Regions from separate parts of the Homo sapiens genome. Here region 1 is linked to region 2. The links come from fine-mapping of genetic effects on gene expression. Tissue or cell type: testis. Region 2 holds a variant in brackets; the other region holds the start of a gene. All regions are shown on one strand. Distances are between the middles of the regions. Region 1 holds the start of SNHG27 (small nucleolar RNA host gene 27). Region 2 holds the start of LOC105377425 (a long non-coding RNA gene).

Evidence for each region. PIP is the estimated chance that this variant, and not a neighbour inherited with it, causes the effect.
Region 1: it holds the start of SNHG27, and the variant in region 2 is the best candidate, but not a certain one, in a credible set for the expression of SNHG27 in testis (GTEx, PIP 0.67).

Annotation. Positions count from the first base shown.
Region 1 is chr4:131,756,683-131,772,323 of GRCh38, forward strand. SNHG27 (small nucleolar RNA host gene 27) reads left to right here and starts at 8,156. Exons shown (of 3, transcript NR_125884.1): 1 at 8,156-8,385. It also overlaps the pseudogene LOC124900177.
Region 2 is chr4:131,791,695-131,807,335 of GRCh38, forward strand. It overlaps LOC105377425 (a long non-coding RNA gene), which reads left to right and starts at 12,483. Exons shown (of 5, transcript XR_007058477.1): 1 at 12,483-12,563; 2 at 12,808-12,918. The variant G/A (reference allele first, on the strand shown) is at 7,784.

The DNA.
Region 1 (15,641 bases), 35 kb before region 2:
GGCGCACGCCTGGACATCACTGTCCGTCTCGTAGTCGCCCCCTACGGCCTCAAAGACACACGCTCACTGCATGTGCTCTTGGGGGACGTCAGTGCCACGTTTGGTCACACGGGCTCCAGCTCGGACTCGCCTCTGTCTGCCTTTGCCGGTGTCGCCGGAAGCTGCGTCGGGATGCCGGAGCGCCCGGGCCTTGAAGATGAAGGCAGGCCCCTGCTCCACCCAGGAAGGAGGGAGGCAGTGGACTCATGGGTCCGTGCCGTTGCAGACGACAGCACGCCTTGCGGCCCTGGGGATCTTTCCTTGCCCCGGCGAGACCCTTTCCGCCTCACTGCATTGTAACCCCATTCCCGATCAGCCGGTGGGAGCCATCATCGGATCCCAAGAGGAGTCCGCGCAGCCCAGCCAGCACCCCGAAGGTCCTCCTTCACCGGGAACAGAAGCAGGAGACCGATCAAGGAGGTCCTGACGACAGGACTCCTATGGGTCCGACCCTGGGTCTCCCGCAGGCCCCTCTGGTAGACCTCTTCCCACCCGCCGCCTTGGGCTGCGACGCAGCCGCCGCCGCCGCAACCTCCAGCACCGCCGCCCCAGTCCCCGCAGCCGCCGCGTCGCCGCCATTTTTTAAAGGGTCCGCAGCCTGACTCTGCTGAGTAAGGAGGGGTGGGGTGGGTGAGTCGGCCTCGCCAGTGCGCATGCGCGAGGCCCCAGCCGCCGCTTTGGTCACAGTGACCGCCACCGTTGCCCGGGGATGGGTCCCTGAGAATTGGCGAAGTAGGAGCCCTTTGTGATTGTGCGTCAGAGTCGGGGCTGAGACCAGTCCTGGCCAGGGCAGTTACCAGGACGGTCTCCGGAGGCCGGGATTCGCGGAGGGTCCGCCAGGAGGAAGAAACCTCAGACAGATCGCCGGGGACGCAGCGCGGGATCCCAGCCTCAGGCGTGCACGGACGGTGTGCGGGTGAGTCTCCCCAAAAGTAGCGCCCTTGTGATGTGGAGGACAGGTCTGCCAGGGTGTCCGTGGGCTGCTGTCTCACCGGTGGCCTCGTAGTCGCGGAGAGCAGAACCCGGCAGCTTCAGGGGCAGCCTGGGGGTGGGTGTTACCTGCTGTATGTCTGTGTGCGTCTTGGTTGTGTGTGTGTGTGTGTGTGTGTGTGTGTGTGTCTGTGTGCGTGCGTGCGTGGCGTCCGTGTGCCCACTTCTGTCTATCTCTTACGTCTCTCTCTCTCTCTCCCCGCCCTCGCTCTTTCCGTCGCCCTCTCTTTCTATCTCTGTCCGTCTGTGTGTGCTTGTGCCTCGGGACACATGTGCCCCGTGTGCCGGAGGGTGGGTTTCTTGCAGGTCGGCCTTTCTTCTGGTCAGCCTCTCCCCGCGTCTCTGCCTCGGTCGTGTAGCCGGTTAGCAGTCGGTTTCCCGGCGGTTCCGGTTTGGGGGTCTGTGAGGGCCTGGGCAATGCCGGCATCTGCTTCGGAACCGCAGGGGTTTTCGTCCCCTCCCCATCCGGAGCAGCCTCTTTGCTAGGCTAGATCCAGACGACCGCTCCCCAAGCAAGGACAACGGCCTCCCAGGCGCTCATTGTCCACCCGCAGGAGGGTGCCCGCAGACCTTCAAGAGGATGGTTCTCACGCCTCTCGCCCTCTCCCTCATGGAGAAATGGAGCCACAGCTCGACGCAGGGACGGAGAAGGAAGCCGGCAAGGGGATGGGGCAAGCATCTCTGTCACTCAAAGGCTGGCCTTCCTGGCCGAGTCACCCGTCTGACACTCCTCCCCGGATGCCCGTGGTGGTGGCATGGCCCCGTATCCTGCCTGGGCTCTGGCCTCTGCTCTGTCCTCCCTTTTGCTGTGTCTGCCCCGTCTCTGAGAAGCATGGCGGCTTCTTAGTCTGGCTCAACGTCTTCAACAAAGAAGACTTCCCAGTCCAGGGACAAACCCCGTGGGCGTCCGTGTCATGATCGTTTCCCTCTCGACACCTCTTTCTGCATGATTGGGCAGGTGTGGTGATCCTGGAGCTCTGGGCTTCCATACCTGTGTGGGACAGGGAAGCTCTCTTGGTCTCCATGGCCCAAGTGATGGCTGCGCGCTCAGTCCAGGAAGAGGGGGAGGCAAGCCCACCGTTCCCCACATTGGCCTTCCAGGAAAGGCGGTGTTGCATCCCACCTGCACTTCCTGTCTGATCCTTGAGGGCCAACCGGTTCCTCCGCTCCTGGGGAAAGCGCCTTCTGGCACTGAATCTTTTGGCTGCCACGGATGTCAGGGAGCCAACGGGACTGGGTTTTGGCTGGGTGCAGGGGAGGTTGCGTAAGGGGTACCTAAGCGGTAGCGGCGTGGGGGTGGGGTGTACTTGGTCCAAAGCTCTGGGCTCCTCTGGCGGGCCTCCCTGAATGTGGCCTGGACTCGCGCACAGGCCCTGTCTCGCAGGTTTGCAGGTGCGCTTGGCTTTTCCTCCGCTTTGTGGGGCAGGTCTCCAGTGGCCCCCGGGCGCACGCCTGGACATCACTGTCCGTCTCGTCGTCGCCCCCTACGGCCTCAAAGACACACGCTCTCTGCATGTGCTCTTGGGGGACGTCAGTGCCACGTTTGGTCACACGGGCTCCAGCTCGGACTCGCCTCTGTCTGTCTTTGCCGGTGTCGCCGGAAGCTGCGTCGGGATGCCGGAGCCCCCGGGCTTTGGAGATGAAGGCAGGCCCCTGCTCCACCCAGGATGGAGGGAGGCAGTGGGCTCATGGGTCAGTGCCGTTGCAGACGACAGCAAGCCTTGCGGCCCTGGGGATCTTTCCGTGCCCCGGCGAGACCCTTTCCGCCTCACTGCATTGTAACCCCATTCCCGATCAGCCGGTGGGAGCCATCATCGGATCCCAAGAGGAGTCCGCGCAGCCCAGCCAGCACCCCGAAGGTCCTCCTTCACCGGGAACAGAAGCAGGAGACCGATCAAGGAGGTCCTGACGACAGGACTCCTATGGGTCCGACCCTGGGTCTCCCGCAGGCCCCTCTGGTAGACCTCTTCCCACCCGCCGCCTCGGGCTGCGCCGCAGCCGCCGCCGCCGCAACCTCCAGCACCACCACCCTAGTCCCCGCAGCCGCCGCGTCACCGCCATTTTTTAAAGGGTCCGCAGCCTGACTCTGCTGAGTAAGGAGGGGTGGGGCGGGTGAGTCGGCCTCGCCAGTGCGCATGCGCGAGGCCCCAGCCGCCGCTTTGGTCACAGTGACCGCCACCGTTGCCCGGGGATGGGTCCCTGAGAATTGGCGAAGTAGGAGCCCTTTGTGATTCTGCGTCAGAGTCGGGGCTGAGACCAGTCCTGGCCAGGGCAGTTACCAGGACGGTCTCCGGAGGCCGGGATTCGCGGAGGGTCCGCCAGGAGGAAGAAACCTCAGATAGATCGCCGGGGACGCAGCGCGGGATCCCAGCCTCAGGCGTGCACGGACGGTGTGCGGGTGAGTCTCCCCAAAAGTAGCGCCCTTGTGATGTGGAGGACAGGTCTGCCAGGGTGTCCGTGGGCTGCTGTCTCACCGGTGGCCTCGTAGTCGCGGAGAGCAGAACCCGGCAGCTTCAGGGGCAGCCTGGGGGTGGGTGTTACCTGCTGTATGTCTGTGTGCGTCTTGGTTGTGTGTGTGTGTGTGTGTGTGTGTGTGTGTGTGTGTGTGTCTGTGTGCGTGCGTGCGTGGCGTCCGTGTGCCCACTTCTGTCTATCTCTTACGTCTCTCTCTCTCTCTCCCCCCCCTCGCTCTTTCCGTCGCCCTCTCTTTCTATCTCTGTCCGTCTGTGTGTGCTTGTGCCTCGGGACACATGTGCCCCGTGTGCCGGAGGGTGGGTTTCTTGCAGGTCGGCCTTTCTTCTGGTCAGCCTCTCCCCGCGTCTCTGCCTCGGTCGTGTAGCCGGTTAGTAGTCGGTTTCCCGGCGGTTCCGGTTTGGGGGTCTGTGAGGGCCTGGGCAATGCCGGCATCTGCTTCGGAACCGCAGGGGTTTTCGTCCCCTCCCCATCCGGAGCAGCCTCTTTGCTAGGCTAGATCCAGACGACCGCTCCCCAAGCAAGGACAACGGCCTCCCAGGCGCTCATTGTCCACCCGCAGGAGGGTGCCCGCAGACCTTCAAGAGGATGGTTCTCACGCCTCTCGCCCTCTCCCTCATGGAGAAATGGAGCCACAGCTCGACGCAGGGACGGAGAAGGAAGCCGGCAAGGGGATGGGGCAAGCATCTCTGTCACTCAAAGGCTGGCCTTCCTGGCCGAGTCACCCGTCTGACACTCCTCCCCGGATGCCCGTGGTGGTGGCATGGCCCCGTATCCTGCCTGGACTCTGGCCTCTGCTCTGTCCTCCCTCTTGCTGTGTCTGCCCCGTCTCTGAGAAGCCTGGCGGCTTCTTAGTCTGGCTCAACGTCTTCAACAAAGAAGACTTCCCTGTCCATCAGGGAGAAACCCCGTGGGCGTCCGTGTCGTGATCGTTTCCCTCTCCACACCACTTTCTGGATGATTGGGCAGGTGTGGTGATCCTGGAGCTCTGGGCTTCCATACCTGTGTGGGACAGGGAAGCTCTCTTGGTCTCCATGGCCCAAGTGATGGCTGCGCGCTCGGTCCAGGAAGAGGGGGAGACAAGCCCACCGTTCCCCACATTGGCCTTCCAGGAAAGGCGGTGTTGCAGCCCACCTGCACTTCCTGTCTGATCCTTGAGGGCCAACCGGTTCCTCCGCTCCTGGGGAAAGCGCCTTCTGGCACTGAATCTTTTGGCTGCCACGGATGTCAGGGAGCCAACGGGACTGGGTTTTGGCTGGGTGCAGCGGAGGTTGCGTCAGGGGTACCTAAGCGGTAGCGGCGTGGGGGTGGGGTGTACTTGGTCCAAAGCTCTGGGCTCCTCTGGCGGGCCTCCCTGAATGTGGCCTGGACTCGCGCACAGGCCCTGTCTCGCAGGTTTGCAGGTGCGCTTGGCTTTTCCTCCGCTTTGTGGGGCAGGTCTCCAGTGGCCCCCGGGCGCACGCCTGGACATCACTGTCCGTCTCGTAGTCGCCCCCTACGGCCTCAAAGACACACGCTCACTGCATGTGCTCTTGGGGGACGTCAGTGCCACGTTTGGTCACACGGGCTCCAGCTCGGACTCGCCTCTGTCTGCCTTTGCCGGTGTCGCCGGAAGCTGCGTCGGGATGCCGGAGCGCCCGGGCCTTGAAGATGAAGGCAGGCCCCTGCTCCACCCAGGAAGGAGGGAGGCAGTGGACTCATGGGTCCGTGCCGTTGCAGACGACAGCACGCCTTGCGGCCCTGGGGATCTTTCCTTGCCCCGGCGAGACCCTTTCCGCCTCACTGCATTGTAACCCCATTCCCGATCAGCCGGTGGGAGCCATCATCGGATCCCAAGAGGAGTCCGCGCAGCCCAGCCAGCACCCCGAAGGTCCTCCTTCACCGGGAACAGAATCAGGAGACCGATCAAGGAGGTCCTGACGACAGGACTCCTATGGGTCCGACCCTGGGTCTCCCGCAGGCCCCTCTGGTAGACCTCTTCCCACCCGCCGCCTCGGGCTGCGCCGCAGCCGCCGCCGCCGCAACCTCCAGCACCGCCGCCCCAGTCCCCGCAGCCGCCGCGTCACCGCCGTTTTTTAAAGGGTCCGCAGCCTGACTCTGCTGAGTAAGGAGGGGTGGGGCGGGTGAGTCGGCCTCGCCAGTGCGCATGCGCGAGGCCCCAGCCGCCGCTTTGGTCACAGTGACTGCCACCGTTGCCCGGGGATGGGTCCCTGAGAATTGGCGAAGTAGGAGCCCTGTGTGATTGTGCGTCAGAGTCGGGGCTGAGACCAGTCCTGGCCAGGGCAGTTACCAGGACGGTCTCCGGAGGCCGGGATTCGCGGAGGGTCCGCCAGGAGGAAGAAACCTCAGACAGATCGCCGGGGCCGCAGCGCGGGATTCCAGCCTCAGGCGTGCACGGACGGTGTGCGGGTGAGTCTCCCCAAAAGTGGCGCCCTTGTGATGTGGAGGACAGGTCTGCCAGGGTGTCCGTGGGCTGCTGTCTCACCGGTGGCCTCGTAGTCGCGGAGAGCAGAACCCGACAGCTTCAGGGGCAGCCTGGGGGTGGGTGTTACCTGCTGTATGTCTGTTTGCGTCTTGGTTGTGTGTGTGTGTGTGTGTGTGTTTGTGTGTGTGTGTGTGTCTGTGTGCGTGCGTGCGTGGCGTCCGTGTGCCCACTTCTGTCTATCTCTTGTCTCTCTCTCTCTCTCCCCCCCCCCTCGCTCTTTCCGTCGCCCTCTCTTTCTATCTCTGTCCGTCTGTGTGTGCTTGTGCCTCGGGACACATGTGCCTCGTGTGCCGGAGGGTGGGTTTCTTGCAGGTCGGCCTTTCTTCTGGTCAGCCTCTCCCCGCGTCTCTGCCTCGGTCGTGTGGCCGGTTAGCAGTCGGTTTCCCGGCGGTTCCGGTTTGGGGGTCTGTGAGGGCCTGGGCAACGCCGGCATCTGCTTCGGAACCGCAGGGGTTTTCGTCCCCTCCCCATCCGGAGCAGCCTCTTTGCTAGGCTAGATCCAGACGACCGCTCCCCAAGCAAGGACAACGGCCTCCCAGGCGCTCATTGTCCACCCGCAGGAGGGTGCCCGCAGACCTTCAAGAAGATGGTTCTCACGCCTCTCGCCCTCTCCCTCATGGAGAAATGGAGCCACAGATCGACGCAGGGACGGAGAAGGAAGCCGGCAAGGGGATGGGGCAAGCATCTCTGTCACTCAAAGGCTGGCCTTCCTGGCCGAGTCACCCGTCTGACACTCCTCTCCGGATGCCCGTGGTGGTGGCATGGCCCCGTATCCTGCCTGGACTCTGGCCTCTGCTCTGTCCTCCCTCTTGCTGTGTCTGCCCCGTCTCTGAGAAGCCTGGCGGCTTCTTATTCTGGCTCAACGTCTTCAACAAAGAAGACTTCCCAGTCCATCAGGGAGAAACCCCGTGGGCGTCCGTGTCATGATCGTTTCCCTCTCCACACCTCTTTCTGGATGATTGGGCAGGTGTGGTGATCCTGGAGCTCTGGGCTTCCATACCTGTGTGGGACAGGGAAGCTCTCTTGGTCTCCATGGCCCAAGTGATGGCTGCGCGCTCGGTCCAGGAAGAGGGGGAGGCAAGCCCACCGTTCCCCACATTGGCCTTCCAGGAAAGGCGGTGTTGCATCCCACCTGCACTTCCTGTCTGATCCTTGAGGGCCAACCGGTCCCTCCGCTCCTGGGGAAAGCGCCTTCTGGCACTGAATCTTTTGGCTGCCACGGATGTCAGGGAGCCAACGGGACTGGGTTTTGGCTGGGTGCAGGGGAGGTTGCGTCAGGGGTACCTAAGCGGTAGCGGCGTGGGGGTGGGGTGTACTTGGTCCAAAGCTCTGGGCTCCTCTGGCGGGCCTCCCTGAATGTGGCCTGGACTCGCGCACAGGCCCTGTCTCGCAGGTTTGCAGGTGCGCTTGGCTTTTCCTCTGCTTTGTGGGGCAGGTCTCCAGTGGCCCCCGGGCGCACGCCTGGACATCACTGTCCGTCTCGTCGTCGCCCCCTACGGCCTCAAAGACACACGCTCTCTGCATGTGCTCTTGGGGGACGTCAGTGCCACGTTTGGTCACACGGGCTCCAGCTCGGACTCGCCTCTGTCTTTGCCGATGTCGCCGGAAGCTGCGTCGGGATGCCGGAGCCCCCGGGCCTTGGAGATGAAGGCAGGCCCCTGCTCCACCCAGGAAGGAGGGAGGCAGTGGGCTCATGGGTCAGTGCCGTTGCAGACGACAGCACGCCTTGCGGCCTTGGGGATCTTTCCGTGCCCCGGCGAGACCCTTTCCGCCTCACTGCATTGTAACCCCATTCCCGATCAGCCGGTGGGAGCCATCATCGGATCCCAAGAGGTGTCCGCGCAGCCCAGCCAGCACCCCGAAGGTCCTCCTTCACCGGGAACAGAAGCAGGAGACCGATCAAGGAGGTCCTGACGACAGGACTCCTATGGGTCCGACCCTGAGTCTCCCGCAGGCCCCTCTGGTAGTCCTCTTCCCACCCTCTGCCTCGGGCTGCGCCGCAGTCCCCGCCGCAACCTCCAGCACCGCCACCCCAGTCCCCGCAGCCGCCATGTCGCCGCCATTTTTTAAAGGGTCTGCAGCCTGACTCTGCGGAGTAAGGGGGCGTGGGGCGGGTGAGTCGGCCTCGCCAGTGAGCATGCGCGAGGCCCGAGCCGCCGCTGTGGTCACAGTGACCGCCACCGTTGCCCGGGGATGGGTCCTTGAGACTTGGCTAAGCAGGCACCCTGTGTGAGCTTGGTCAGAGTCGGGGCTGAGACCAGTCCTGGCCAGGGCAGTTAACAGGAAGGTCTCCGGAGGCCGGGATTCGCGGAGGGTCCATCAGGAGGAAGAAACCTCAGACAGATCTCCGGGGAGACAGCGCGGGATCCCAGCCTCAGGCGTGCGCGGACAGTGTGCGGGTGAGTCTCCCCAAAAGTGGCGCTCTTGGGATGTCGAGGACAGGTCTGCCTGTGTGTCCGTGGGCTGCTCTCTTCACCGGTGGCTTGGTAGTCGCAGAGAGCAGAACCCAGCAGGTTCTGGGGCTGCCTGGGTGTGGGCCTCAGTAAGCTTACAATCATGGCAGAAGGTGACGGGGGAGCCAGCACTTCACATGGCTGGAAGCAGGAAGAAGAGTGAGAAGTGGGGAGGTGCTATACACTTTTAACAACCAGACTCACAATAACTCACTCACTATCGCAAGAACAGCACCAAGGAGATGGTGCTAAACCATTTAAGAGAAACCGCTAGATGATCCAATTGCCTCCCAACACGCCCCACCTCCAACAGTGGGACTTATAGTTTGACTTGAGATTTGGGTGGGGACACAGATCCAAATGATATCAGTGTGTTAAAAGGAAAAGGAGATAACAGTGGGAAATGGATATTTAACTTCAATTTGTGAGTTTTTATTTTAGAGTTCTAAAATTATGTCTTATACTACCTATACAAGTGCTGGAATATTTTCTGTATTAAGTGGTAGATATATAATATCCGAATATCATACTTACCTTCTTTGACCTTGCAGTTTAAGAGGGCATTTTAAGAAAGTAAACAAACACATTGATTTTTTTTTAAAGGAGAAATTTTTCAGTAAACGATATAGGTACGTTAACATGGGCGATATAGGAAAGTTACTGATGGAGAGACAATCCTACATAGAAACCTAAGGAAGCAATTAACTCAGACACAGAGATTGAGAAGAGTAAAATGGAAAATGGGTGAAATCTGGGAAATCTGTTGCTTCCAGTAGAAGAAACATAATATTGAAGGAACAGAGATTGATGTCAAGAGTTCAGGGAAACAAACCAGAATAAGAATGTTTAGACAAAAGGCTGATGGTAGAAGGAAATTGAGACTGAAAGTTATAGAGAGCACAGGCTTACTCGAAGATTAGCAGACAAAAGAACATCTGTAAGTTCAATCATGAAGGAGTGCCAGAATTAAAGAGAAAATAAGGAAATAATAAAGGGAATCTTTTGATGTGAGGAACCAATTGGGCTATGAACTCAGCCTGCTAGCCTGCCATTCCAATGACAGTAGGAAATAAATGTTCTGTAAGTTATTTGAAAATTAGAGGACAAAGTAATTGTTTGTTCTATAGGTAGAGAAACATTTTTGTAAATGATAATACAGCTGTTCTACCAATTTCTCTTAATTTTCAAACTTTTTGAAGGGGTACACTATATTTTCACGATTTGTTCATTCTGATTTCCAACTCATATTTGTTCATCATTTTCTCTTTACTTTTTAAAAAGTTGAAAGACATTCATATCACAAAATTTTCACTGGATAATTTTTCTTGTTGCAACTGTAGATTTTTGTGGATATATACAAATCTCTCTAGTGACACATCTAGAGATTAATGTTATGTTCTATTCCATAGGGAGCAAATATACCACATGAAACATTGCAACTATGAATCTAACTAGACTGTACGGGCAACATATATTGAAAGATAAATTAAAATTGTAAGTTCTATGAGAAAACACAAACATTTGAGTAAAAAAAATGAGAAAGATGTAGTGGTGCCTTCTTCCTACGTTAGAAAAAAGGATCCATAATGAACAACTTTTTTTCCATGTATTTCCTACAATTGAGTAAAATAATGGGACTAGGCAAGTTTACTGGTTTGCATTTTTTCATCTGGGTCTGGTTTTTCATTTCAATTGTCAGCCGTTGTATTAACTACTTTCACCATTCAAAGGAATGAATGATCTGCCATAGTATTTTCTGCAGTTCCATCTCTTGTTTTCAGTATCATTCCAATTCTGCATCTATCTAATTTTGATCTCTGTTCTATTTATTTTCCTGATTCATAACATTTTGCTTTGTGCTGAGCTCCTAATTGTCTCTCTGTCATTCTCAACATTTTAGCCCTATGGTCTAAAAGATGCCCCAAAGAATGTAGCATATTCTAGTATATCAGTGGGACAACATAAACAACATGCTTAATTGTTAATCTATTTAAAGATGAAAGTGTTTTTCATTTTTTTAATCAATTTAATGCTGACTAGATCCTATAACTACATTCTGCTTTTTATAACTAAAGAGCTCCAGAAAAATAAATGTAATAGCTTTGCTGGAAAAGATTAACTTTACAATGCCTTCCTAATGACCTTACTTTTTTTTTTTTTGAAAAGTATTTTCTGGTATACAAAAATAATATTCTGAAATATCTCTGTGATATTTGATTGCCGGATTTAACCTACATACCTCTGAACCTTGGTTTTTCAGACATACAAACTGCTTAACAAGTTCCAATGCATTAATCAATACACCATTGCATAACTTAGAGTAAGAAAAGTTGGTAGATATTTCAGCAATGCCCTAAAATATGCTTCTATTTAACACTTTGAGACAACCAATACACTATTTATAGTGTTGAGACAAAACAAACCTAAGATCACAGAAAAATATTTATTTTAATAAAATGGTATTTAAGTAGATAGTTTTTTGTTGTGGTTTTTTTTTTTTTTTTTTGAGATGGAGTCTCCCTCTGTCGCCCAGTTCAGTGGCCCAGTCTTGGCTCACCGTAACCTCCCCTTCCCGAGTTCAAGCAGTTCTCCCTGCCTCAGCTTCCTGAGTAGCTGAAATTACAGGCATGCACCACCACGCCTGTTTAATTTTTGTGTTTTTAGTAAAGATGGGATGTCATTATGTTGTCCAGGCTGGTCTTGAACTCCTGACCTCAGGTGATCTGCCCACCTTGGCCTCCCAAAGTGTAAGTAGATAGTTTAAATGATTATGGGTTTCATAGGTTTTATTAATTTGTTTTAGTTAACATACAAGAGCACTACAAAACCACATGATTTTATTTTAATTTTTGTCAATAAACTTTATTATATTAAAGGCCATATTGCCCACTGAGTATGATTTTGATATGCACAACTTCTATAATTTACAACTTACTGTATATGGTCTAATATAAATTACATTTAGCTATCTTGAATAAAAGATACTACTCCCCAAAAACTTAATATATAAAATAATTTCTACAATCAATTAAGCCACACAGCTCTTTTTCTCATGGGGCCTGGTGTGCAAGGGCTGCAAACAGCAGCATCCTAGGTAGTGTACAGCAGCCTGTTCCTTGTGTACAACAGCCATTGGACATTTATGTCTCGGATCTAGTGCTTTCCCTAGTCTAGGTTTAAGACCGGATGTAGTATGCCTTTGGAAAGCCTCAGGACCCAGAGGTCAGAGTTCACATTGGCCATGTTCATCCATACCAAGGATGAACTTATTTAGGGCCAAGTTCAAGTTCAGTGAATGCCCAAAAAGCCACATCTCAAAGAAGTGCAATTTTACTAAGTTTAATGCATATACATTTTAAGACTTGGTGGCTGAGAAACAACTCATCCTGGATGGCTGTGGGGCTAGATATAGCCCTGGAATCATGGGCCCCTGGACAAGCAGCTAGCCCTGCATTAGAAAAGAGCTGCCCCCTCTTTACTCAGCCCACCAGTGAATTCTATTTCCTGTACATCTAATAAATCAATCCTATCTATCTATCTATCTATCTAAATAATTCAACAATATGAAGTAGATTAAAAAACACAACTTTATCTTGATGTCTAACTACTGTGGAAATATTTTGTCAGTTATTAACATTCCCCTTTCAGGTTAATATCAAGTCAACAAAAATTTGGAGTTCTCTTGACCCTTTCCCCAATGTGTAAATTAGTAATATAATGTCAATATTCAGACAGGCAAATAAACTAAGCTCCCTTTGATGAAAACGACATGCAGTAACGCTTCCCTACTGAGAATCATCTTAGTTTGTGAAATCATAATCTGGAATGGCTATATCTGCAAAATATATTAAAAGAAAGAAAATATCAAAAACATAATCTACAATACTTTTATGTATATCTAATCATTTTATATTTCTTTTTTATTATACTACTTGAAATACATACATAAAGGATAAAGAGTTTCAACAAATCTCAAAAAGGAAACCTAATTATGTATAATATTCTGACCGATTTTGCTTGCTCACCAAATTGAAATTGAAAAGAAAAAATGCAGCACTCTGTAAAAAAATAAAATGATTTCAAAATATAATTATTGTCTCCCTTTGAAAATATAAATGTTTAAATAATGGTGAAATAGAGAACATAAACATTCACAAATATTACATATCCATTCAACATTTTCAGGTATTATTTTGTTTTGTTCAAACCTCCCCTTCTGTCATTTTTCTCTCCTTTCTTTATCTTTAGCATAACTGAGCTGCTTTCCAAACATCTATAGTTATACCGGACATAGCATTTTCCAACATCAAACATGGTTTTTCTTAAACACCAGCTCCAAATATTAATTCCCAGGGAAAATGACATTTTCCATATATGAGAAATATTGGAACCAATATAACAAAACTGATTAACATTTATAACATTTGAAAATAATTTCACAAAAGTTTTATTTAAAAAAATTATATTGTAAATTTACGTAAGAAATTCTCTATCCATTATATGACTTGTATAATAACATCCACAGTATACTAAGAAAATGTTTTTAAAATATAGGATAAGGTGTCTAAATAATAAATTTTTAAGACCACTTAGTGCCACTATTAAAAATCTGAGAATAAGGCATGAATATTTTTTGATCTATAGAGATTATATATCAGCATGCCAGCATTGGCTTTTATTACAGAATAAGCATTTTAATCTTCATTAACTCTCATCAATTCACTATAGAAAGTAGCTTAAAAAAAAAAAGACCATCACTTGTAGAAAACAGTTAATATTTCGATGGTTTACCTGGAAGTTTACCAGGCATAAATTTATAAAATACATTTATGGATTGAAATAAACTGTTTTACTAAACAATATTACAGAATTCTGAATAGATGCTGATTAAGCAGCAAATCAACAAAACTGTTTATTTACCAGTTTGGTGGCTACCATGCTAATTAGATCATCTGTTTAAAATGTGTCCATATGGACAATTTTTCTGTAAATGTTTTCTTTATGTCCATATTGTGTGGTAGTATTTTCATAGAACCAAGTAGAAATTAACTTAAAAATTAGTTATTTAAAGATGACAATAGAAGATTTTGAACTTTGATTCCCAAAAGGCAAGCAAATATTTCTGAAATAAAATATTTTATATATTTAATTTCTAATTTAATTTACATATAAAATATTTTAAAAATTCATATGAATTTGAGATATTTTCACATTAATTGGACTGTTTTTGTACCTCATTTTGCTTGGTCACACTAAAGTGAGGTTCATCATCTTGTGGAACCAAAGGAAAACTAGTGTGATTATAAGGAAATTATTATAGTTAGACAACTGTGCATTAATTTCATCATTAAGGACCAAATGTATACAGATATAAATACTTTTCTTAATACATTACTTGCAACATATGCACAATTATGTAACAATTATGGTGAACTAAGTCTCCTAGAAATTTCCAAAATAATTTTTTTGCCTTTTTTTAACCTCTAAATCCATATAAATCAAGGGAAAATATTCTTGCACATATGTATATTTAAACATGAACCTAGCCAAAAGTAAGAGAAATTTAAAAAAGTGTAACATATCAAAATGTGGAAATTTCTGTGTTTAGGGAAAAATCTATCCCATTAAGAGCTTGCATTAGAAAAGAAAAATTACCTTGAAATTATGATGAAAGCTTCCAGCTTGTTATTATAAAAATGAGAACAAATTAATTCTGAAGCAATCAGAAGGAAGAAAATAATAAAGGTTAATGAAGAAATAAACAACATTAAATGGAGAAAAATTATATAGCTAAGTAAATTAAACTAAACTTAGATCTTTGAAGGGATCAATAAAATTGTTAAATCTCTGGCCAGACTAAGGAGAAAATAATAGGAAATAAATAATTTACAAATTTTAAGAATGATAGAAGTGGCTGGGGGTGGTGGCTCATGCCTGTAATCCCAGCACTTTGGGAGGCCAAGGCAGGCAGATCGTTTGAGGTCAGGAGTTCCAGACCAGCCTGGCCAACATAGTGAATCTCTGTCTCTACTAAAAATACAAAAATTAGCCGAACGTGATGGCTCATGCCTATATTCCCAGCTACTCGAGAGGCTGAGGCACAAGAATTGCTTGAAGCTGGGAGGTGGAATTTGCAGTGAGTGGAGATCAGGCCACTGCACTCAAGCCCGGGCGACAGAACGGGACTCTGTCTCAAAACAAATAAACAAAAAAAAAAGAATGATAGAAGTAACATTTCCATTGTCCTACAACAGTTTAAGGATAACTAAATGAATACCATGATGAAATTTATAAATGTAAATTAGTTAATTTAGATTAAATGTACAAATCCCTCAAAAGAGACTAACTACTAAGGCAAACTCAAAAAGAAAGCAATAACATGAACATCCCTATATATATGTTTTAAATTTATTAATACCCACCTAGATAAACTAACTGACAAATTTTACTAATATTTAAGGAGATATAATTTATACTTTACACAAAACTTTAAGAAATAAAAAAGAGGAAACACTTTTCAACATGTTTTATTAGTCTACCATTATCCCCATACCAAAACCTTAAAAAAGACATTACAAGAAAATGTCCTGTAGACAAATATGTATTTAGATGAGGAATTTAGATTTCAAAAACTTCAGCAAACTATTATCCAATTAAATCCTCTCATGTCTGTGTGTGTATGTGTGTGCATGCATGTGTGTTTGTAAAATATATCATTACTAATTGGCGTTTATCTTGGGAGTTCAAGATGGTTTCCATATTCAATCAACCCATCAATGTGGACTATGGTCATTTGAAAAGACCAGCAAATCCTCTACACAAAAGGCCACTATAAATTCATTAAAACAGCCTTCCATCACTCTCGAAATTGACCAAAGCATTCAACTACCTGAAAAATATTTATGTTTGGAAAGCTATTGAAATGCAGTTAAAAATATCAGGAAACCTGTTTTTACGTTTTGTCCTGATCTTGCTAAATCCTTCTTAATTTTGTGAGACACTGCTTCTCCTTCCACTGTTCCTTTACTTTCTCCTTCCCCTTTGTTTTTGCCTCCCCCTTCCTCTCCCTTTTCTACATTCCTTCTCTCTCCTAAATGCTGTATAAATTTCTACATATATAATCATATTATTTACAAATAGGAACAGTTTTACTTATTTCTTTCCAATCTGCATTTATTTTATTCTCCCTTTTTTTCCTTACA
Region 2 (15,641 bases):
GAGTTAAAACATTTTTCCCGATTGGATGTTGGGGTTTGCTATAATTCTTTGTTACTTTATATGTGAATATACTCACTACTGACTATGTTTATGTATGTAGGAAACATGCTAGTGATGAAAATTCAAGCAGTTATTACCCTGGTTTTCTTTCATTAACAAAATACAGAAGAGAAATTATCTACTTATTCTTGGAGGTCTTAAAATATCTTTTCAGTTGACTGATGATTCTGCTATCAAGAGCTACAAGTAGGTGCTCTGGCCGTCTATATCTGTATTTCCATATATTCAATTCCTTATTATATATTTCTCATTTGATATTCTATACCCAATTCAAACAAAACCATTTCATGTATACAATGTACTTTTATTTACGCTTTTCTCTATCATTAAGTAGAAAGCCATTTGCACCTTAGTCTAAATCTGAAATGTGCCTCTACCTAACCTTTCTAATACATTTTCACTATTTCTTAGTTATTAGAATAAATTTGCATAATTTCTGAAACAACTTTCTCTATGGAGTATTCCCTTTAGTTTCTTTTCCCTTCCAAACAATTTAATGAATTACAAATATGGGGGAGATATTTTTTCAATGGGTAAGACTTGACTTCTACAAATACATGTTTAATTCCTTCTCAAAATTATTTCTACTTCCTCTTATTCAACACTGTGCTAGATTTTAGGGATATATAATAAGACAATATATGAGGTCCTTGCTGTCGTGAAAGGTACATTCTTATCTTTGGCAAATTGTAGAATCTTTAGTTTTGGTGTGCAAGGGCATTGGTGTTTGGTACATGCTTGGCTCTTTGCCTTAAGAATTGCCTCTTTCCACCATGCATATTTCACCTGTGTGGGAATCCTTGCAGATCTCTATATTATTGATAGTCATTTTGCTCCGACATTTTGTACAAAGCTGAATCAGCAACAGTATGACTAAACACAACCAAAAAAGAAAGCTAGAAAGATTATATTAGACACTTACGTGTATGGATCATTATGGTGAGGACTGCTAAAAAAAAAAAAAAAAAAACACCTTCAGCCAAAATAAATTTACAGTTTAATTGAGTAATGAATGATTCATAAATTGGAAAGCCCCCACAATCACAGCAGATTCAGAGAGACTCCAGCGGTGTCTCATGGTCAGAATGAATTTATAGACAATACAAAGTAAAGTGACGTATAGAAATCAGAAGTGAGGTACAGAAACAGCTGGATTGATTACGGCTTGGCACTTGCCTTATTTGAACACTCAGCTGTATGCGACTAGTTGAAGTATGGCTGCTGGACTTGGCCAAGACTCAGCGATTGTTACAGGCGCATACTCCTAAGTTAGGTTTTAGTCTTGTGTACCTATTGAGTTAGGTTGCAGTTCATTCACAAGGACTGAAATACAGAAGTATGGCGTTTTTCTCAGGCCATATTTAATTTGATTTAACAGGACTTTGGGTATGTCATTGTATTTTACTAATATATTTTACAAACACCCCATGTTATCTTAATCTATTTAAGTTCACACTTTTTAATGAAATTTTACTTTAAATGTATCTAACCTCCTAAATTTCTGCCTTTATGAACCAATAATACTTTTTCCAAATTCTTATTATAGCACATATCAGACTATATAGCTATAGACACTTTGGCATCATTGTTTTCCCATACAAAACACAATACATTTAATGAATTAATGAATGATGCATCAGCAAAGAAGCTTTTACTGAAAGTAAGAAAAATTATAAGCCAGTTTGGGTTTCCCAAGAATCAGACACCAAGATGGAATTACACATATAATACAGTAACCAGAGAAAACGCCTTTGAAGAATAAAGAGAAGATAGAGCAAAAGGAGGCTGCAAGAGCCTCCAGATCATGATGCAAGCCTGGCACCTCAAAAGAAGAGAGAGCATGAAAGATAATTGGAAAGGAGGAGCCTCAGAGAAGAGTGCAGATCTGAGAAATTGTCAGTGAAAGAGCACCAAAGTGAATTTTGACCTTTAGATGAGTCCACGTGGGACAAGAATGAAAAGCCCTGTAATATCTTCCTTGCTCAGCATTGGCAGGGAGCAACCTAAGGAGAGCATGGCACCTGCATGTAAACCAAAAATAAAATTCAATGTCCGTTAACCAACTAAATGGGCCCTTTATCTTGGCCAAGGGCATTTTAAACTAAACCTGAAACAGTAATGGAGGCCATGATGGAAATGGGTGGTTGAACATGCCTCGTTATTTACTTTCATCCTTTCGGAATTCATGCATAGCTGAACAGTGTTAACATTAAAGTAGAGACTTAAGAATGACAAAACAGACTCTTCGTAGCAATAAGATATCAACATGACAGATAGCAGGCCTTGAAAGAAAAAGTATTTCACCAAAAAAATACATTTCTTTGACATATTTTGAAATGGCCCTACAAAGCTGTTTCTGTGGGGAAAATCTCCATTTTGTAGAGAATCCCGTTGTCTTTCCAAGTCTTTTTCCTGATTTTTCCTGATTCCAAGTCCTTTTTCCTTTTTATGTCTGATAAAAATCATTTACAATCTATTCTCAGTGAAGCCTGCTACCTGCAAGCTTCATCTGCATAAGAACCTCGGTCTCTAAAACACCTTATCTTAACCCGTACACTCCTGTCTATTGATTCCGGTCTTTAGATAAATTATTTTAGCCAGTTCTCAAATGCCAATCAGAAAATCTTCGAATTCACCTTTAACCTGGAAGCCTTCACCCACCCCACCCCCACCTGCTTTGAGTTGTCTCACCTTTCCCGATTTTACCAATGTATATCTTAGGCGTACTGATTGATGTCTTATGTCTCCCTCACATGTATAAATCCAAGCTGTAGCCCAACAACCTTGACACATGTTCTCAGGATCTCCTGGGCTGTGTGACAGGCCGAGGTCACTCATATTTGCCTCAGAATAAATCTCTTCAAATATTTCACGGTTTGACTCTTTTCTTCAACATGCATTATCACTGTAGTAGCTCTGAAGTGGTTGAGTTGGAGGTAACCCACCAACAACCCTCCTCATGGAAATTTCTCTTGAATGAAAATATGGGAGGAGTAAATTCTTCACTGCCAAATACTATTTCAAATTCTTTCAAGCATAAGGTACATTCATTATTTAACCTAAAAGTCAATCAAGAGGTAAAAAGAGGTCACAGTTTGCTTACGTATTTTCTGGCACTTCTTTGCTATTGGCTGTGTCACTTTTACCCTTGACATTGCTGCAAAAATGTCTGCAGACATTTAGGGTCATCATATTCAGATACAACCCTACCCAGAAGACCAAGAAAGAGACACCAAGAGAAACATTTATTTTAAAAACTCTTAAGGTAATTTGCCCTGATTTGCCTTTGTGCTGAATTGGGTCATATGTTTATTTTTGTTCTTATTTTTGGCAAAGAATCAGGCTATACTTAGAGTAATCACATCATACCTGAATCTGAAGACGAGACAGTAAACTTAGAGAAGTACTGAAGCCTTGGAAGCCTTGGATATATTGAATATGTTCTATCTTAGAAAGAAAAGGTGAGATAATGTATGCTGGCAGTCAACCAACAGCATATTCTCCTAATGAACAACTGGAGAGTCATTTAAGTTCAATGTTGGGGATTTTATTAGAAACTGTAAGATGAAGACACAATTCATTTTCTCTTTCCCTGTAAATTTGGACAATATTTGCTATATTCGCCTATATTTTGGCATAGAAATTTAGGTTCTAAGTATATAGTAGTGATATAGCCTTCTTACAGGGTCACATAGACCCACAAGTAATAATTTTTAATACTCTTTTTATTCTCTCTGGTTGGCTAACATTAAAACAATCCACAGAAAACCCCCAAGAGCTATGTATTGAGGATGGCAAAACCACAGATGGGAAAATAATGAATCTTTGAATGACCCTGCGGGAAATCACAAATAGCATTCCTATTATTTAAGCAAGCAATAACTTTTATTGTTTTAAGAGTTGGAGGTTTAATTGTTTCAGTATTACTGTTACCACAATTATTACAGGAAATGAAATGAGTAAAAAAAAATAGAGGGAACAAGGTTTATTGACATCTATGAGGCATTTTCTTTCCCCTAATATTACATACTCTAGATTTTATTTCTGTACAAAAAATATTCTCTATGTCTAGCATAAAGAACTATGTCTTATTCATATTTATACTCTTCATAGATCAAAAGTGTGCTTAAAATACTGTACATTTAATGAGTTATTTTTGAATGTAAGCAACTTTGAATTCATCTTTGCATTTTTAATCTTATGTTTCTATTAAATGTATTATTAAATTCTACTAACACTTTCCTCAAAATAATTCTCAATATTTTGGTTTTTAATTTTTTACTGCCTTTGCATTCTCCTGGCAGAGACCCATTTCACCTCTCCTATAGATTATTTCATAAAGATTTTATCATCCGTATCATATATATTTACAATATTAAAAGTTATCTGTAGCATGCTCTCATTGTTGCTTATAGATTAGGTTTGCTTCTCTATGTACTACTCTGGTAGGCAGTGGTTAAATATACTGCTTTAAGCCTTTTCACAGTACCTTCTATAATATCATCATGCACAGTTTTAGGCACACAGCAGAAAATCAATGAAACATATTTAATTGACTAAAAATTGAAAGACATTGGTATATATGTAGGACAGATACTGATATTTTTATAAGCCCAACTCTGAAATGGTGATACACAAAAAGTTGATAATTTTTTTCAGCAAAAACTATTAATAGTCATTTTTCAACATAATGTAAAATATATTTGAGATTGATAAATATTTTAGAACTCAAGTGTAAGAAAGCCATTAAGGGAATCCCACAATTTTCATTGTTTCTAAAACCTAATATAATTTAAGATTATGAACAGCCTTCTTTCTCAGCAGAAAAACATATCACCAACCCACTACATTAAAAAAATGCATTATTCCAATCAATCTTGTTAATATACCATAGAATATTGAATTTTTTAAGAAAATTCAGAACTTTAAAAATAAATACTAACCATAATAGCTCAATTAAAATTATCTCTATATTCTTGGAGGTTTTCAAATGCCATATCTAAAAATAGGATATAGTAAGGTATATCCAGGGATAAACTAGCTGTTAAAAAATAATTTATTGAGACCTGTTATTATTGGCTGAGTAAACTTCTCTTATCTTCCAAAACATGTTCCATTATTTCATAAGATCTAGAAATGATACCATGTTTGAAATTGGTTGAAAGGTTTCCCTATTGACCTACTTATAAATGGGTTATTTACATATTCAGGGTAATTACTTGTGCTTAAAACTGTTTTCAAGATAAATATGAACTGTGTCATTGTTCATATAAAAGAAAGATGCTTCTTTTCAATTAATTTCTATTAGTTAATAATTCTACAAATTATGTTTATTTCAATGGAGATTAAAGAACATAAAAAGAATAATGTTTCTGTTTTAGACTATATTAGTAAACCAGTTGGGGGGTGGGGCAATGAGGATAAACTCCATCAAAGGAACATAAGTTAGAAAAGTTGTAACATAAACTTAGGTTATAAGTCTGAATTACCCTAGACAGTTAGTCTATGGAATATGAGACTCTATGCAGCCTCAGCTGGCAGCACTGCCCTTAAGCAAAGATCATGAAAGAGATGCTGAAATAATTAATCAGGCAGAAATTTAGTATAATATTTCTTTGGGAATGTTCTCCGATACTTGGAAGTCAAAATAACAAGTAATTCTCACTTCCATTCTTTGTCTTCTCAATATACATCCCTATATCTTGCAAGGCATTTAGCAAATTAGAGTACATTTACCAGCCTCCTTGCACTTTGATGAGGCAATGTAACTAATTTTTGGACCATAACATGTGAACAGAAGCAATATTTGCAGCATCTAAAAGAAATGTGTGTGACCTTTTACCCCTGTTACCATGCTTTAGAATTCATAGCTGTTTTCAGCTATTTTATATATAAAATAAGCATATAAAAGCAACAAAATAAATCAACATTGTAGAGCTATCGTGACATCACTGGACTTCTCCTAAAAGTTTTACGTGAAAAATATGTGAATTATTTCAAGCTGCTCTACTTGTTTTTCATAGACTGTCATTAATTAATTTTTTATGTACCACTAAAAAGCATTTTAAAATGCCTCTAAACTATGGCACACTGCTAAATATTTTCTAGATGTCTCAAAGAAGTTTTTATATGCAGTAATTTTGTTTTACATACACATGCATACTTACTGATTTCAAGTTTTTTCAACTTTCATATGAAATTGAAAGTTGAAAAGGCATATGAAATGTCTTTTTGAAACTCCTAACTCAATTTAATTTTTTTTTTTTACATTTAGGTTTACCATATTGTTTTAACAAAATGCTGTGTATTTATTCTAATATTTTAAAAACTTTAGGAATAAATTAATAATTTGGATTGTTCTACAGTATTGTATCCTGAACTGGAACTTTTTTTACTGATTTATTAATTGGAATATGAAATATGATATGCACATGTGAAAGACACAGATCTTAAGCATATAGCTTTAAACATTTTTAGAATGTCATCACAACCTACATGAATATGAATTGAGTATTACTAGAATCCAGGAGTCTCTATTGTGAACCTCCAATCATTACTATAGGCAACCACTGTTCTTACTTTTATCTTTATAAATTACATTTGCTTGACATTGAACTTCATAGCAATTGAACCATACAATAGATATTAATTTCAATCTGGTTCAAAAAACACAACCAACAGCGTGGGTGTCAGTGTGAAATTCTGGGCTGCTTCTCAGCTGAATCAATGGTGCTGACAGCTGCAATAGCAACAGCAGTGTCTTCAGAAGTTTTACTGAGAGTTTGGAGTCCAGAGTTTCTGCCTAACAGCAGCTGCACTCAAATAGGGCCAATGGTCAGTCTGGAATCATGGGACCCAGAATGCACCACCTTCCCCTATTCATTTTTCACAGTTAAGGATGGAAGTGGCTTCCTTCATTTGCTCATCATCTGGAGTAGCAGGCCTCTTTTGCTCTTTCAGCGTTTCTAACATTGTTGTAACCATGCCCCCAACCCCTGTATTATATTGTCTATCCTTTAAAAACTATTTTGTGGACTTGTATAAAATTTATTTTCCCATTCCCAGTATAAAATAATTGGGTCATTCTTTACTCATGTATCAATTCAAATTTCTAAGACTCTATTTATCTCTTCTCCTCAATAATGTTTCTTTTTTCTTTTTCTTCTTTTTAGACAGGGTCTTGTGCTCTCACCCAGGCTGGAGTGCAGGGGCTGGAACACAGCTCCCTACAGCCTCGACCTCTTGAATTCAAGTGATCCTCACACTTCAGCCTCCAGAGTAGCTTTGATGACAGGTGTGTGCCACCAGGCCCAGCTACTTTTCTTTACTTTTTGTAGAGACATGGTCTTGCCATATTACCCAGGCTAGTCTCAGACCCCTGGGCTCAAGTATCCTCCTGCCTCCACCTCCCAAAGTGCTGGGATTATAGGCATAAGCCACCATGCCCAGCTAATGTTTTCTATTTACCATAGCTTTTTGCATATATATGTTATTATATATATGTAATATATATATAATATAGTATGTATGTGTATATACTATATTATTAACAATTAGATCTAAAATATAGAAATAATTTTAACACCTTTATTTTCTGTACCTTCATAGTTAATCTCATATTTTCCAAATCTGTTAATGTGGCACTGGTCAGAGTTATAGCTCCAAAGAATGAGCATCCGCTCAGTCTCATAACCAGGACCCAACCTGCAACATTAATGTTACA[G/A]ATTAATTCCTAATTCCAGTCTCACTCTTTCATCACCAGTTCTATCTTTGCACACTTACTAATCCCAATTATTTTAAAGCAAGTTGCTTAACCTGCTGTGGCAGTTTTCCCCTCTCCTTCAACTTTCTCTCTCTCTTTTTTTTTTCTTCTAATAATACCTGCCAAGTAAGAATCCCTTTCATTACGTACATCAAATATCCACTTCCTCCAACAATTTTATTCAACCTAAGTATTCAACCTAAGGGCTTAGATTCATGGTCTGTCCTTACAATGCTGTTCCATCTTTTTAAAGCTAATTGCAATGCATCTAGTCATTTTTATTGCAGCACTATGTATAATAGCCAAGATACAGAATAAGCCTAAGTGTCTGGCAACAGATGAATGCATAAAGAAAATGCGCGATCTGTATACAATGAAGTACTCTTTAGCCATAAAAAATAAAATCTTGCCATTTATGACAATATGGATGAATCCAGAAGACATCGTGGTAAGTGAAATAAGCCAGACACAGAAAGACAAGTACAGCATGATCTCACTCATAAGTGGAGTCTAAAAAAAAAAAAGAAAATACAAACATTTAAAAAAGTTAATATCATAGAAGCAGAGAGTAGAAAAATGTTACTGGAGACTAAAGACGGGAGGACGAAAAGAAGGATGAGGAAACTTTGATTGATGGTATAAAATTACAACTAGATAAGAGCAATAAATTCTGGTGTTCTGTTGCATGTAGAGCAAGTATGGTTAACAGTGAAATATCGTATATTACAAAATAGCTTGAAGAGTTGTCTTCGAATGTTCTCACCACAAAGAAATGATAAATATGTAAGATAATAGATTCACTCTGAATGGATCATTGTACAACATGGATAGGTATCCAGGTATCAAATTATACCCCATGAGTATGTACAATTATTATATGTCAATTCATAAATAAATAAGATCACTAGATTTAATCAAGAGAATCTTATTGACTTGTTCTCATTTTAGAGTTTTAAAACTAGTCTGCCCTATTGCAAACTACCTATTTTTAAAACTACTCTTCTCCTGCACAAAAATCTCTCAAAGTCTCCTTTCTCCTGAAAGAAAAATGACCTATTTAATTTACAAATATTTCAAAAATTAGTGCACATTTTATATATGAAAAGAATGCTGTAGACTGATTTGCAAATAACATTCTAAGATTCCCATTACCTTTAAGAGGAGTCAGCTGTCATTTTGGAAAAATTAAGATTTCAACAATTTTACACATATGAAAATATTTTTGATAATGAAAAATGTTCAATCTTAAATCATGTAAATAAGTAAATAGAGAGGTAAAATAAAGAGCTTAATGTTTATGTGATATTGAGAAAAAATCTTTTTTAAAAATAAAATACAGATTAAAAAACAACTTTGTGCTTTAACTGAAGGGTGTCCCTACTCCCTGATGTGTTTGAGACTGTCACAAACCTGAACCCATTTGGACAATACATCAAATAATCATTTTGCATCGTTTCACTATTGGGGAAATGAGAACTTCTTACATTAAATGAAAAAAAAAAAACTGAAAAAGTAGTATTACTTTGTCTTTTAAGTGGCAAGATAGGGTTGATATGATGCCGAAGTATAAACAGTAAGGACTAAGTGAGGATGGAGGATATATGAATAAATGTATCAAAAGTCAAGAGAAATGATAAAACAGTCAATTCTGGGGAACAGTAGTAGAAGCTACGCATGGAATATGGTTAGACAGACAGTGATATTTACTTTTGAGTTTTGCTTATATATTTCTAACATTTCCTGATAGGACTGGCATTCTAACAGTTATTCTTATTGTTATAAATTCTTTTAAAAATATTTTTTCTCCAAACATCTCAGTTCAAATTATAGAGTTAAAGGAAACTATGGTAATAAAATAAAATATTAATTATTTCAAAAGAAAAAGAGAAAAATTTGTACACTTAATTTAAAATTGTTTTCAGTCTTATTTTTGCAAGCAATTTACCAATAGATTTGTAATGCACAGTAATGTTGAATGGGTATTGAAGCTATTGAAATACAGAAGTAAGTTAGTTTTTCATTATGCTGTGAGTGATGTCCTGAAACACATTAACTTGATATTTTATCTATTGTTTAATATAATTCCCCATGAATTACATATAATGGTAATAGATTAATATCTTTGGAAGTACTGTAAATAATTATATAATTCAGCCAGGAATTACCTTGCTCATTTGCTAACATTATTATATTCTTTCAAAAGCAAATAGCAAAAATAATTTTCAACTGACATACATATGGAATACTTACTCTTCAATTATCTCAAAATGCCCAGATTTTCTCAATAACTTTCCTATTGATTTAATTATAGGCATTAAAAATGAGTATTCTAGTACAAGAATAAATAGTGTTGTCTCTCCTTCGTCCCCCAGTACTCCTAAATATTTACTAAAAATCTCAATGCTAATCAATAGTGGAAGTATTTGGTGCCTAATGATGGCATTCCATTCCTTCCTTGAAGTCCAATACACAGAGTAATAGAAATCTCATGAATGTGATTGTGTGAGGTGGCTCATAATACTTGGATCTATAGAGAGAATCACTTAACAGACATTAGTTGAATCAGAAACTACTTCTCATTTCATTGAGTTCTATGCAGTCCCCAACCTTTGTGGCACCAGGGACTGGTTTTGTGGAAGACAATATTTCCATGGACAGGGGAGCAGGGGATGGTTTTAGGATTATAATGGTTAATAATAGATGTCAACTTAATTGGATTGAAGGATGCCTAGATAATTGGTAAAGAATAGTTTCTGGGTGTGTCAGTGAGGGTGTTGCTGGAGGAGATTAACATTTGAGTCGGACTGGGAGAGGAAGACCCATCCTCAACGTGGGTGGACACCATCCAATTGACTGTCAGCTTGGCTAGAACAAAGCTGGTGGAAGAAGGTGGGATAAGCTGACTTAACAAGTCTTCTGGCTTTCATCATTCTGCTGTGCTGGATGCTTCCTGCCCTTCGACATCAGACTCCAGGTTCTTTAGGCTTTGGACACTTGAACTTACAGCAGTGGTTTTCCAGGGGCTTTCAGGCCCTTGGCCACAGACTAAATGTTGCACTGCCAACTTTCCTACTTTTGAGGCTTTTGTAGTTGAACTAAGTCTTTGTTGGCTTCCTTGCCCCTTAGCTTGCAGACAGCCTATCATGGGACTTCACCTTGTGACTGTATAAGTCAATTCTCGTTAATAAACTCCTTTTCATATATACATATATCTTATAAGTTCTGTCCCTCTGGAGAACCCTGACTAATACAGGGATGAAACTGTTCTACCTCAGATCATCGAGCATTAGATTCTCATGAGGTATGCACAACCTAGATCCCTTGCATGCTCAGTTCATAATAGGGTTCACATTACTATAAGAATCTAATTCTGTAGCTGATTCGACAGAAGGCAGAGCTCAGGTGGTAATGCTCACTCACCTGCCGCTCACCTCCTGCTGTATGATCTGATTCCTAACTAGCCATAGCTCATTACCAAGGGTTGAGGACCACTGTGTTAAAAGATAAACTAAGGCACAATAGAATTTTAAATATGTTATTTACACAATGATTTATGACTCAGGCAGCTCCAAACCATAAAAGTGGCTTAAGAGCTCCACTGAGGGAGCACAGGGGGAGGCTTTTAGAGGACAGGCACAGAAGAAAACTAAAGGTAATGTTTGACTATTTATAGTTGTACAGTTATTTGTACCTTATTTGGTACCAAAGTTGTACCTTACTAGGTCTATCCCATTGGAAAGTCTTCAGTTATATGATTATGTGTGTTGGCTACTTCTGATTGGTTGAACTTAAGTTCTGTTTTTCTTTAACATAGAAATTGATAAGAATAGCTCAAGTTTCCCTTATATCTGTAGATCAATCAAGGTTTAGATCACTTATGATGCCTAACTGCTTTTGTCTGCTCAGAAATTCTTCAGGCCTGGACTCCATTTTAATTTACTTTAATGATTGTTACTTTAAATTTGGATTAAACAGTGGATTCATATGTACTGAGTGGAAAAAAATGGAAATAGATGTTATAAAATTTATTTGAAATCATTCAGCCAGGATGTTTTAAACAGCATAAATTAGCAGAATTACCAAAAACACATTTTGAAAAAACCTTGAAGCAATTTTAATGTATTGCAAAATGTTAAGGAGACTAGTGGGACAAAAACTTAAAGGTTGAGTTTGAGATATGATGCAGGGTTTTTTGCTCCTTAGCCCAGCTAGGCCTAAGTTCTGAAGAAGTAGGCACATGGACACTCAAAGAGTAAGTGTAGTAGAATTTATTTAGTGAAAGGAAAGCTCTCAGCAAAGAGAGGGGTCCTGATGCCAAGTTCTTGGTTGCCCCCTTAATGGTTGAATACAAGGGCATTTTTTTTTTTTCTTGAGACAGAAACTCACTCTGTTGCCGAGGCTGGAGCGCAATGACGTGATCTCGGCTCACTATAACCTCTGCCCTCCAGGTTCAAGCAATTCTCCTGCATCAGCCTCCTGAGTAGCTGGGATTACTGGCACACGTCACCAGGCCCGGATAATTTTTGTATTTTTAGTAGATATGGGATTTACCATGTTGGTCAGGCTGGTGGTCTCCAACTCCTGATCTAGTGATCTGCCCGCCTCCGCCTCCCGAAGTGTTTGGATTACAGGTGTGAGCTACCGCACCCGGCAACAAGGACATTTTTATACAAGCTGATAGGGCTGTGAATTCCTGGTTGTATGAGACGTGAATTCCTGGTTGCTCCACTCCATCTTTCCGGTGAGTTATGTGGGCCCTTAGTCTGTGCCGCTCCATATTGATTTATTTCCCTTAATGCACATATGTTAAGGAACGAAATTTTCCACTATGGGCATGTTTAGGCAAGCTCCCTTAGCAAGTACCCTTATCTGCACAAAATATTTGGTATAAGCACCTAGGGGGTGGGTAGGAGGTTCTCCAGGGGATCCTTTCCTGACTGTCTCCCTAAAGCAAGTTGGCTGACTCCTTTCATTCCTCCCTTCAGGAGTGGAGACCCCAAATTCTGTTGGGGAAAGTGTACAACTACTGCTCTTAACTGCTTCCTGCCGACAAGGGGTGCTGTTTTGGGAAAGTGGCAGTTAAGGCTCCTCCTGAGGTCAGTTTAAGGGTCCCCAAAGAGAACGGTGTGTTCATGAGTGGTTCTGTTTGCATCACCATTTGAAATTGAATGGCCTTTAAGTGAGAAGAAACAATTTGGGTTATTAGAGGACACATTCAAAATGAAACAAAGGGATAAGGACAGCTCAAAACAAAACAAAACAAAAATCTCAAGGCTGCCAATACAGCCAGATAACTCGTGGCTATAGTTATGCCTGCTAAGGTTTGTATTCATGGGGCTTGGCTTTGATTAGCTCCCTTGGTCTTATTTTCCCAAACAAAGAAACCTCTGGGTTATGGGCACGTATTTACTCCTATCACCTGGAAGGATTTGCAGGATAATTGTTCAGAATTAAAATATTGATCCAGATTTTTTATATTACTCATCTCTTTGGTTCTTTTGAGCTGCAGCCATACATTGCTGGTTGGTCCAACAGGAATAAGCAGGGTAGTCTAAAAAGTAGGCAAAAACTTAAAAACAACTAATGGGATTATAATGTAATGACAAATGTAGAATAAGTTTTGAAACATAATTTCTCTCTCTCCAGTCCTCATTTTTGTCAAAAACAAATCATGATAGGACTCAGTTGTTTGAAAAATAAACTTTAGCCTTATACTTGTCTTATTTGCATAAAGTGCAACAAGAATAATTATTTTTCCCATAGGATTTTAAATTGGCTTTGATGGAACTCTGTTCCATAAGGAATCTCAGTTAAGACCTTTTAAGGCCAAGCCCAGCCATGGGTTTCCATCCTCAAATATCTACGAGTTTGGTAAATCATTCTCTTCTTGATGTCCCAAGAACAAGCTTTTTAACAGGCCCAGGAGCTTTTTAACAGGCTCCTAGCCCTGTTAAAAAGTGACATGCTTTACTCCCCACGGGTTAGGAACCTTGTACAAGGACTGTGTTGACAAGGTATGTAGCCAGTTTTCCCAAGGGACTTTTATTGGCAAGTCCAGCTTAATTACTTAAAGGAACATATACCCTTCCAGTAAAAGCCTCGGTAAAACCACCAGTTTCTTCAATCGTGTCCTGTTGCAAAAGAAAATGTATTCTTATTGCACTGATGAAAATAACTGTATTGCCATAAATTAAATATTCTCACAAATAGTTTCCAAATTCTGGCAAAGCCAGGCAGAGAGAAACAAACGTCCTTCAAATTTTGTTCACAGGCATATAGTTTACTCAATTATTAAAGGCTTTAAATAGTTCAAAATAAGTATCCTTGACTCAGAAAAACAAAGCAAGGATCACCAAAGTTTTAAGCAAAAAGGTTAAAAATAATACTTGTTTTCTATTAGTTCAATCCATTCTGTTCTCTTGTTCTGCTTGATATTCATGAACATTTCAGTTCTTCATGAGTACTGTATTTTTTTCAATGTCATAATCTCCAGAGTTAATGGAATCTTGCATTGAGAACACTTGTCAAAATCCTATAGCTGATTATAAATCATCTTTTGAGTAGGATCAAAACAAGTCATTTGTCTGTGAAAGATGAAATGTCCAGGGTAGTTACTGTCAAGAATACAATTGACAAAGAAATTTAGTTATTTCTAGGGTTTACAATAACGAAACATAATAACCTTAATCATGATTGATAGCATATACTCAGACATTAGAATTTTAGAAATCTCATATAATTTTGAAACATATTAATATTATTCACTAAAATATAACCTAAAGAAGATTAAATATAACTTTGGAAATACCATATAACTAAACATTTCAAAAAATCCAGTTTTCTTCTCTTTTGGATGTTCCAGGGACCAGGAAAGACAATTTTGAAACTGAAGTTTGATTTTGGGAAGCCTGTTAAATACGTTAGAGGTTCAAAGCACTTGATATTATAAAATAGAATTCCAAGTTACCATATGTCATTTATTTTAGCCAAAATGATGACTCAAACATTTTAAAACAACGCAAAAGCATATTCACAGTAAGAGGGAAAACTTAGCTTTCCAAACAATCTGTCGTTAATTTTACAGGGAAATCCTGTTCAAGTGAAAGCCTAATTTCATCCTTGCATTAGTCTACTGCTGATGTCAACCCCAATTTTTTTAATGAAAACTTATAGACAATTATATCTAATCTTATCTAGGTTGACCATGAGGTGAGATTTTTTTAAACTTTTATAACCCTTTACAAATTGTTGTTAAAGAGCGTATCAGTGCCTTTAGAAAACCTTGTTGTGCTTTTATTTCAATGCTCAATTTACAAAAACAAAATACTTTTTTGAAATTAGTCAATATGTTCACACAATTTCTTTTGCAAGATTAATTTTTACAAACCTTTCACCAATTGTTTAAACCTTCAGCTTTATCTTATCTAATTCAAAACAATCCTTTAACCCAAGGCAAAAATTTACATTTTCATGCATTCTTATAATCTTTTACTAAAAATATATTTTACTTTCCTTACTTATGTTATATGTAAATCTATTTTCATTGTCTCTATTACAGGTTATTATGGTAACTGTTAGCAATTTTTAACTTTAATGTAAAACCTGGCAAGTTGCTTTAATTATGTAGTAGGCATAAATAAATTCTGATTCCTTCCTGCATAATTAAGGGTGTGGTTAATTCCATATGTCCCTGGACTTATTAATTGTGAAGCAGGCAAATTGAATAGTGTATTAGTCAATTTTCATGCTGCTGATAAAGACAATCTTGAGACTGGGCAATTTACAAAAGAAAGAGATTTAATTGGACTTACAGTTCCAC